Homo sapiens: one gene and its partner. The protein of the gene in region 1 purifies or fractionates together with the protein of each later gene. This does not show direct contact. Each region holds a gene or a part of one and is shown on either strand. Other genes may lie near its edges.

What was found. Proteins that work in one complex are often made in the same cells at the same time.
Region 2: the proteins of GNS (region 1) and POC5 purify together in Homo sapiens (co-immunoprecipitation; one large-scale study listed by IntAct). This does not show direct contact.

The regions. Positions count from the first base shown.
Region 1 is NC_000012.12:64,738,907-64,742,406, reverse strand, and holds part of GNS (N-acetylglucosamine-6-sulfatase precursor), read left to right. Parts: intron 1-1,718; coding exon 1,719-1,801; intron 1,802-2,907; coding exon 2,908-3,026; intron 3,027-3,500. UniProt on the Homo sapiens protein: Hydrolyzes 6-sulfate groups in N-acetyl-d-glucosaminide units of heparin sulfate and keratan sulfate.
Region 2 is NC_000005.10:75,686,438-75,689,937, reverse strand, and holds part of POC5 (centrosomal protein POC5), read left to right. Parts: intron 1-772; coding exon 773-926; intron 927-2,609; coding exon of another isoform or gene 2,610-2,728; exon of another isoform or gene 2,729-2,990; intron 2,991-3,500. UniProt on the Homo sapiens protein: Essential for the assembly of the distal half of centrioles, required for centriole elongation. Acts as a negative regulator of centriole elongation.

The sequences.
Region 1 (3,500 bases):
ATTAGCATATTGTCTGGCACATTATAGGCATGTGCTTGTTAAATACAGTTTCAAAGCTGAGTGAACTGTGTTTTAAATTAGAGTACTGGCCGGGCGCAGTGGCTCATGCCTGTAATCCCAGCACTTTGGGAGGCCAAGGCGGGCGAATCACGAGGTCAGGAGATTGAGACCATCCTGGCTAACACAGTGAAACCCCATCTCTACTAAAAGTACAAAAAATTAGCCGGGCGTGGTGGTGGACACCTGTACTCCCAGCTACTCGGGAGGCTGAGGCAGGAGAATGGCGTGAACCCGGGAGGCGGAGCTTGCCGTGAGCCGAGATCGCACCACTGCACTCCAGCCTGGGAAACAGTGCAAGATTCCATCAAAATAAAATAAAATAAGATGAGATGAGACAAGATAAGATAAAATAAAATAAAATAAATTAAAAAATAGTAAAATAGGACGATTCTCAATCTGTGTTCCAAAAGAAGTTAATAAAAAGTTCCCATGGTCAAGTAAGTTTGGAAAGTTTGAGTTAAATAAGTCACTCTGCTACAGGACTTCTCAGAGTTATTCATGATCGAATGTGAATTTCTAGCAGGAGAATATGCTATACAGCATTTCTCAAACTTAATAACACTTTGAGGAGCATAGTTTGAGATCTGGTGGCTTAGGGTTTTACGAATAGAGAAGAGAGAATAGTATATAGGGATGTCTTTGTTTAAATGGGAGGGCCCTCCAGATTTAGACTTGAAGTTTTAGGAAATTGCTGTAATAAGATTTTTCCTTAGGATCTAGGGTGACCGATATCTTGGCTAGGCAAAACTTAGAGGAAGGTAGACCAGGTATGGTGGCTTATGCTTGTAATCCCAGCACTTTGGGAGGCTAAGGCAAGAGGATCACCTGAGGCCAGGAGTTCAAGACCAGCCTGGCGAACATGATGAAACCCCATCTCTACTGAAAATACAAAAATTAGACAGGCATGTTGGTGCACGCCTGTAATCCCAGCTACTCAGGTGGCTGAGGCATGAAAATCGCATGAACCCGGGAGGCACAGGTTGCAGTGAGCCGAGATCGTGCCACTGTACTCCAGCTTGGGCTTGGGCTGGAGTGTAGTAGTGCGATCTCGGCTCAATGCAACCTCCGCCTCTGTCTCAAAAAAAGCAACTTAGAGGAAGGTAAAGTTATTTGCCCATTTTCTTTTTTTTTTTTTTTTTTGAGACGGAGTCTCGCTCTGTCGCCCAGGCTGGAGTGCAGTGGCGGGATCTCGGCTCACTGCAAGCTCCGCCTCCCGGGTTCACGCCATTCTCCTGCCTCAGCCTCCCAAGTAGCTGGGACTACAGGCGCCCGCCACTACGCCCTATTTGCCCATTTTCTAATTGTAGTAGACCAAAGGCATAAGATCAGAGTTGTAAATGTAATCTCGCTTTAGCTAGTAGTTTCCCAGTGACATCCTCTAAAATCTCTTAATACTGCCAACAGAGAAGCCAAGACCTTTTATGGTTTGGGAGGTGCTGGGAAGCTGAAGAATGAGAGATTGAGTTAATCTACAGAAATTTCTATTTTAGGAACACAGGAAGGGAGAGAAGTTCTGAAATTGCTTAAACAAGTTCCAGTTAGTTCCTTCTTGCTGAAGTATGAGTGAAACGGTTCTATTTATTATCTACTGTAGTAATCCAGTAGTTTGTTTGACTGTGGTGACTTGGTGTTAACATTTTTTTTCTTCTAAATTTTAGAACAAGCACTGGTTAATTAGGCAAGCCAAGACTCCAATGACTAATTCTTCAATACAGTTTTTAGATAATGCATTTAGGAAAAGGTAAGAGCTGCTGCTACATAACAATCTGAGTGGTTTTAAAGACCCTGCAAATCAGCTCATGAAGAGGAGACCACACCACATTGTTGTCTCTGAAACAAAAACAGAGGGAAGCAAGTCAGTGGGAGAGAGGCTTCGATGGGGCACCAGAAGCAGAGAGATTCCTTTACACTCAAATGAATGAGGTGGCATTTGGACCCCAGTACTAATTAGACTGCCCATTTTTAGGACTTGGCAAAAGTCTTGCAAACTTGAACCATGTGGTAGAATTTTTTCTCCTGCTTTAAAGAAAAGGTGACTTGGTTGAGAGAGCCCATTGTCATATGTGACAAATGACCCAAAAGCTTAGACAAGATCAAAATATCTGCCTTTGCCATTTGGAATTTTCAAGAAATTCTCTTAAGTCAATTTTTAAAAATCCATTACTTTCTCTTAGGAAGTGTTTAGTGTAGACCAGGGATAAGCAAACTTTTTCTGTAAAGGGGCAGATAGTAAATATTAATAGGCTTGCAGGTCATACATTCTGTCACAACTACTCAGCTCTGCTGTTGTAGCACAAAAGCAGCCCTGGGTAACATGTAAATGAATGAGCATGGTTGTGGTCCAATAAAACTTTATAAAAACAGACAGTGGGCAAGCTTTGGCCCATGAGTCATAGCTTGCCAGCTCCTAGTTCAAACATCTTAAGCTTTTTTGTAGCACAGTCCTATCTGAATTAATCTGTAATACACAGTACTGAGAATGGACAACTCTTCCTTCCGATTGTCTCTACTCTCATCACTATTGCCAATAAAAAGTAAAGCTAACTGGTTATTTAAAAACGAGTTTATTTCTTTGGAAACAATTAACTTTGGAATGAATTAATTATGTTCTGGAATTTTCTAATCTGTTTTTTACAATGGGAAGGTCTAGGGAATGGAGATTGGGGATTTGAGTTTTGGGGGAGAGTGTTTTGCAATTTTTTTTTTTTAAACGGGGGTTGTTTTGGATTTTTTTTTTTAAACGGGGGTGTCTTTGTTTTTGTTTTTGGTTTTTTTTTTTTTTGGCAAGATAGTGATACCTCAGCCATTGCCCCTGAAGTCCCATTTCTACCTTCTGTTCACATCCAGGTGGCAAACTCTCCTCTCAGTTGATGACCTTGTGGAGAAACTGGTCAAGAGGCTGGAGTTCACTGGGGAGCTCAACAACACTTACATCTTCTATACCTCAGACAATGGCTATCACACAGGTCAGAGGCAGGAGTAGGTACTGCTGTGATCTTTGAGAATATGTCTTTCCTTTTTCACCCAATGAGCCCTGGGAGGGAGTTCTAGTCTTTTTATAACTGTGGACATGCCAGAGGGAGGATCTTGCCCTCAGGACCCCTCCAGTTGGAGCACCACATCATACCCACGTGGAGAAACCAGGTTTCATTATTTGCTGTTTCACATGCAAGATGACATGGTGTTCTAGGAGTGGGAGCAGAGCATGAGCTTGATGGGTTGGAGGCAGGCCGTATGGAAGGCATTTGAGATAGGAAGACCAAAAGGAGGTTGTCTTGGGAAAACTTTCTTGCCATTCATGGAATTTGTTTTTTGGGTGTTTTTGTTTTTTTCAAAAGCTGCAGGATGAGTCAGCTCTGTGTCCTTGACTTTCATGCTTTCTGCTTGGACCTTCTGTTGTTAAAAGCAAATGTTTTCTTCTTTCCACATATATAAATGTC
Region 2 (3,500 bases), on another chromosome or scaffold:
TCCAACCTAGGCAACAAGAGCAGAAATCCATCTCAAAAAAGAAAAAAAGAAATTGAAATTATTTTTTCCCATTGACTTTTAATAATAAAATTAACATTGTTTTCATGGGAAAACATTTGGAATTGAAATGAAATAAAATCCATTCTAAAGAATGCAATAGGCCTCTTGAAGTTAAATATTAAAATGAAAAAATAACTCATTACAGCATTAAATTGTTAAGATTAAAAATAAATCCATAATACAAATAATTTTCTGCAGTTCACTACGACATGCAAAAAATGCAGTCCCCTGAGGTTTGGCCTATGGGAAAGTGTGTTGTACCTAGGGTCACTCTGCACTTCAAATACTGAAGGTAACATTTACATTATAAAAATTCTGTTAATATTGCAGGCATGTAGTTTATTTTATTTTTTTCTGAAAGGGCTGTCTGTGGCTCTTAATGTATTTTGTTTAACATCCTACATAAAAGTTTTACAGTAAAAAATGGTGTATCTTTTTGTGAAATGAAAATACATCAGCAATATTCAATGGGACTGGATAAAATTCCCCTTGTTTGAACCTTGATTTTAAGGTTAGGAATGAAAGCATTTTGTTGATGGAGATAATAGAGGTAAGAGGTACCTTTTAAAATAAATTGCACATAGCAGAAGAGGTAAGTGACAAACTTTTTAATATTTCACATGAGAATAATCTCAAAGTATATATCTATTTTTTTGACAGTATTCTTCTTTGTATCTCAAATTGTTTTGCTTTTTAAACATTCTTATTTTAGTTATCTGGAGCTTTGGAAAATGCAAAAGCTGAGATTCAAAGAATGCAACATGAAAAAGAGCACTTTGAAGATTCCATGAAAAAAGCTTTCATGAGGGGTGTATGTGCATTAAATCTTGAAGCCATGACTATATTTCAAAACAGAAATGATGCAGGTTAGTATTTCATTAAAGTTTCTCTGCCTAATTTCAAAAAAAGATTTGAGGAGATTTTGGTGATTGGTATGGTCTACAGTACAAATAATCTGCAGTAGGTATGTTTCATCCAGGTGCTGCTATTCTTAATTCTATGGTGTCATATCCAGACTTAAATCTGCCATGAAAATGAGCTCAGTCATGGTTACTTATGGTATCTTAGATCTGATCAAGTACACTGTCACTCCTAAGTATTTAAGCTAAATGTTGAAAATAATATTTTAATGTATAGCATTATTTTAAATCTCTTTTAACTAAGAATTTTAATGCCTTTTTAAGTACAAAACTTCTAATTTTGTCTTTTCTTAAGTAGCCAAATATTTTGGACTATTTTGGTAAGTATTTGTTATCTAGTCATGGTTTCTCATTTTAGAAATTCCTAATCTTCCTGTTTATGAAAGGCCTCAACTAAGCTCATTGCAGCAAACATAAATATAGACCTATCTATAGAAGTAATTTTATTTTTTTTAAAAATCCACATATTGTCTGACATAAGAGTGGTTTGTGTAGTAGTTTTGTCAGCATGGCGTAGAAAAGCCCATAACTAGAATCCTTTGCCACCAATTTACCCAGGGGCCTGTTTTCCTCATTCGGCCTTAGATTTCTTCTCTGAGCGAAGGAGATAATATAAACCTTCCTTACCTGCTTCCTAGGGGCTTCTTGTGGGATGCAGTAAAACATATCTGAAAACACTTTAAAAGACAAAATGCACTTTAACGTGTAAGATGATAGTCATGATGTAATTATTAATAGTTTTAATTCAAGTCAACGTCTCAAGATTTTGTAAATGATTAACATGATTTCAATCCAATGAATAACTTCTCTGTGCTTGTGATGCCCTTATTTTAAAACATCAACAAACATTTATTATTTAAAGCATGCATATTGTGGATAGGAGTAAGTTTAGGCAAATTGCTTTCTATCTGAAGTGGTTGTGGTTTGTGGGCCATATTTAATTTAGAAACTGAGAATCATGGAATCTCAAGGCTGAATAGTTTATTTTGGTAATACCTAGGTGAGTACTTGATTTTTCCAATAAATGGTCTTTTATTTGAGTATCAGGGTTGAAAACAAACTCACCACCTTCAATGATAGAATAGTCTGTTTCAGTTCTAAGTATCAGCAAGTTGTGTGTCACAAATTGAGAAATTTAATTGTTTACTTGGGAGAAATATGAGTTTCACAAGTAAAGTGACAAATTCCTATTAGAACTTCTTACATTAAATTACAAGAAACCTGTTTCTTATAACCTACTTAAAAAGATTTTGAATTGACTTAGGAGTATTTCCCACCTTAATACATTTACCATCTTAAAATGTAAATTGAAATGCAACTGTGTCTCCTAAAGGCCAATATCCATAAGAGGATTTGAAGAAAATGTCTTCTGCTAATTACACAACATGATTTCTTTTGCTCCTGTTACTTTTGAAACAATCGATGAGAAAGATGACAAGAATGGTAAAGCATGCATTAGCAATAATGTTGGTAGAGCTACCAAAGGCAAAAAAGTTCAGTATAATTCAGTGGATCTGCTTTGTGATATTTAGGTTTTATGACATTTTAATGACACCTATTTTTTTTAGTTCTCATAAGAAAAAAAAATTACTTTTGGCCCCCTTCTATTAAAACAACTGTTTTTTATAGGCCAGGCGCGGTCGCTCACACCTGTAATCCCAGCACTTTGGGAGGCCGAGGTGAGTGGATCACGAGGTCAGGAGATCGAGACGATCCTGGCTAACATGGTGAAATCCCGTCTCTACTAAAAATACAAAAAATTAGCCGGGCGTGGTGGCAGGCACCTGTAGTCCCAGCTACTCAGGAGGCTGAGGCAGAAGAATGGCGTGAACCCAGGAGGCAGAGGTTGCAGTGAGCTGAGATCATGCCACTGCACTTCAGCCTGGGCGACAGAGCGAGACTATCTCACAAAAAAAAAAATTGTTTTTTATAATGCAGTTTTTAATAATGTAAAGTTCCTAATGCATCTGTCTTGTTAGAGCAAAATAAATATTTGGTTTTTTATTTGTACCGATTCTTTGCTGTCTGTAATTTGCAGTACCTCTCATGTTGTGCAGTATCTTAAATCTTACAAATTAGAGGTTTTTATGAAGAAGTTAGAACATGACAAAAAGTCCTTAAAATTATATCTGCCAATTTTACTGTGCCAATTAGGCACAGTAAAAAAAAATACTTGACAAGTGAAAAATTTATTCCAGCTAAAATGAGATTAATTATTAAACTTAAGAGTTATCTGATATCAGCCTATATTAGCAAGAGTTGATCACCTGCCTCTCTTCCCTGACCTTCATACTGTTTCTACATCTCCTAATGTCTGCCACCATCTAAAGATAGACACTCAGAATCTCTACCAAAACAAGTTAAAACTCAGTGTGTGTTTTGTTTTCAAATTAAAAGTATTTTATATTGAATTAGTCCCTTTCATCAGAGGAGTTCAAAGGATCTAGGTAGGCACTGTAATCATTGTTAAACTTCTTAAATAAGCTAACTAACTAATACTCTGCAAATTTTCTATACAGA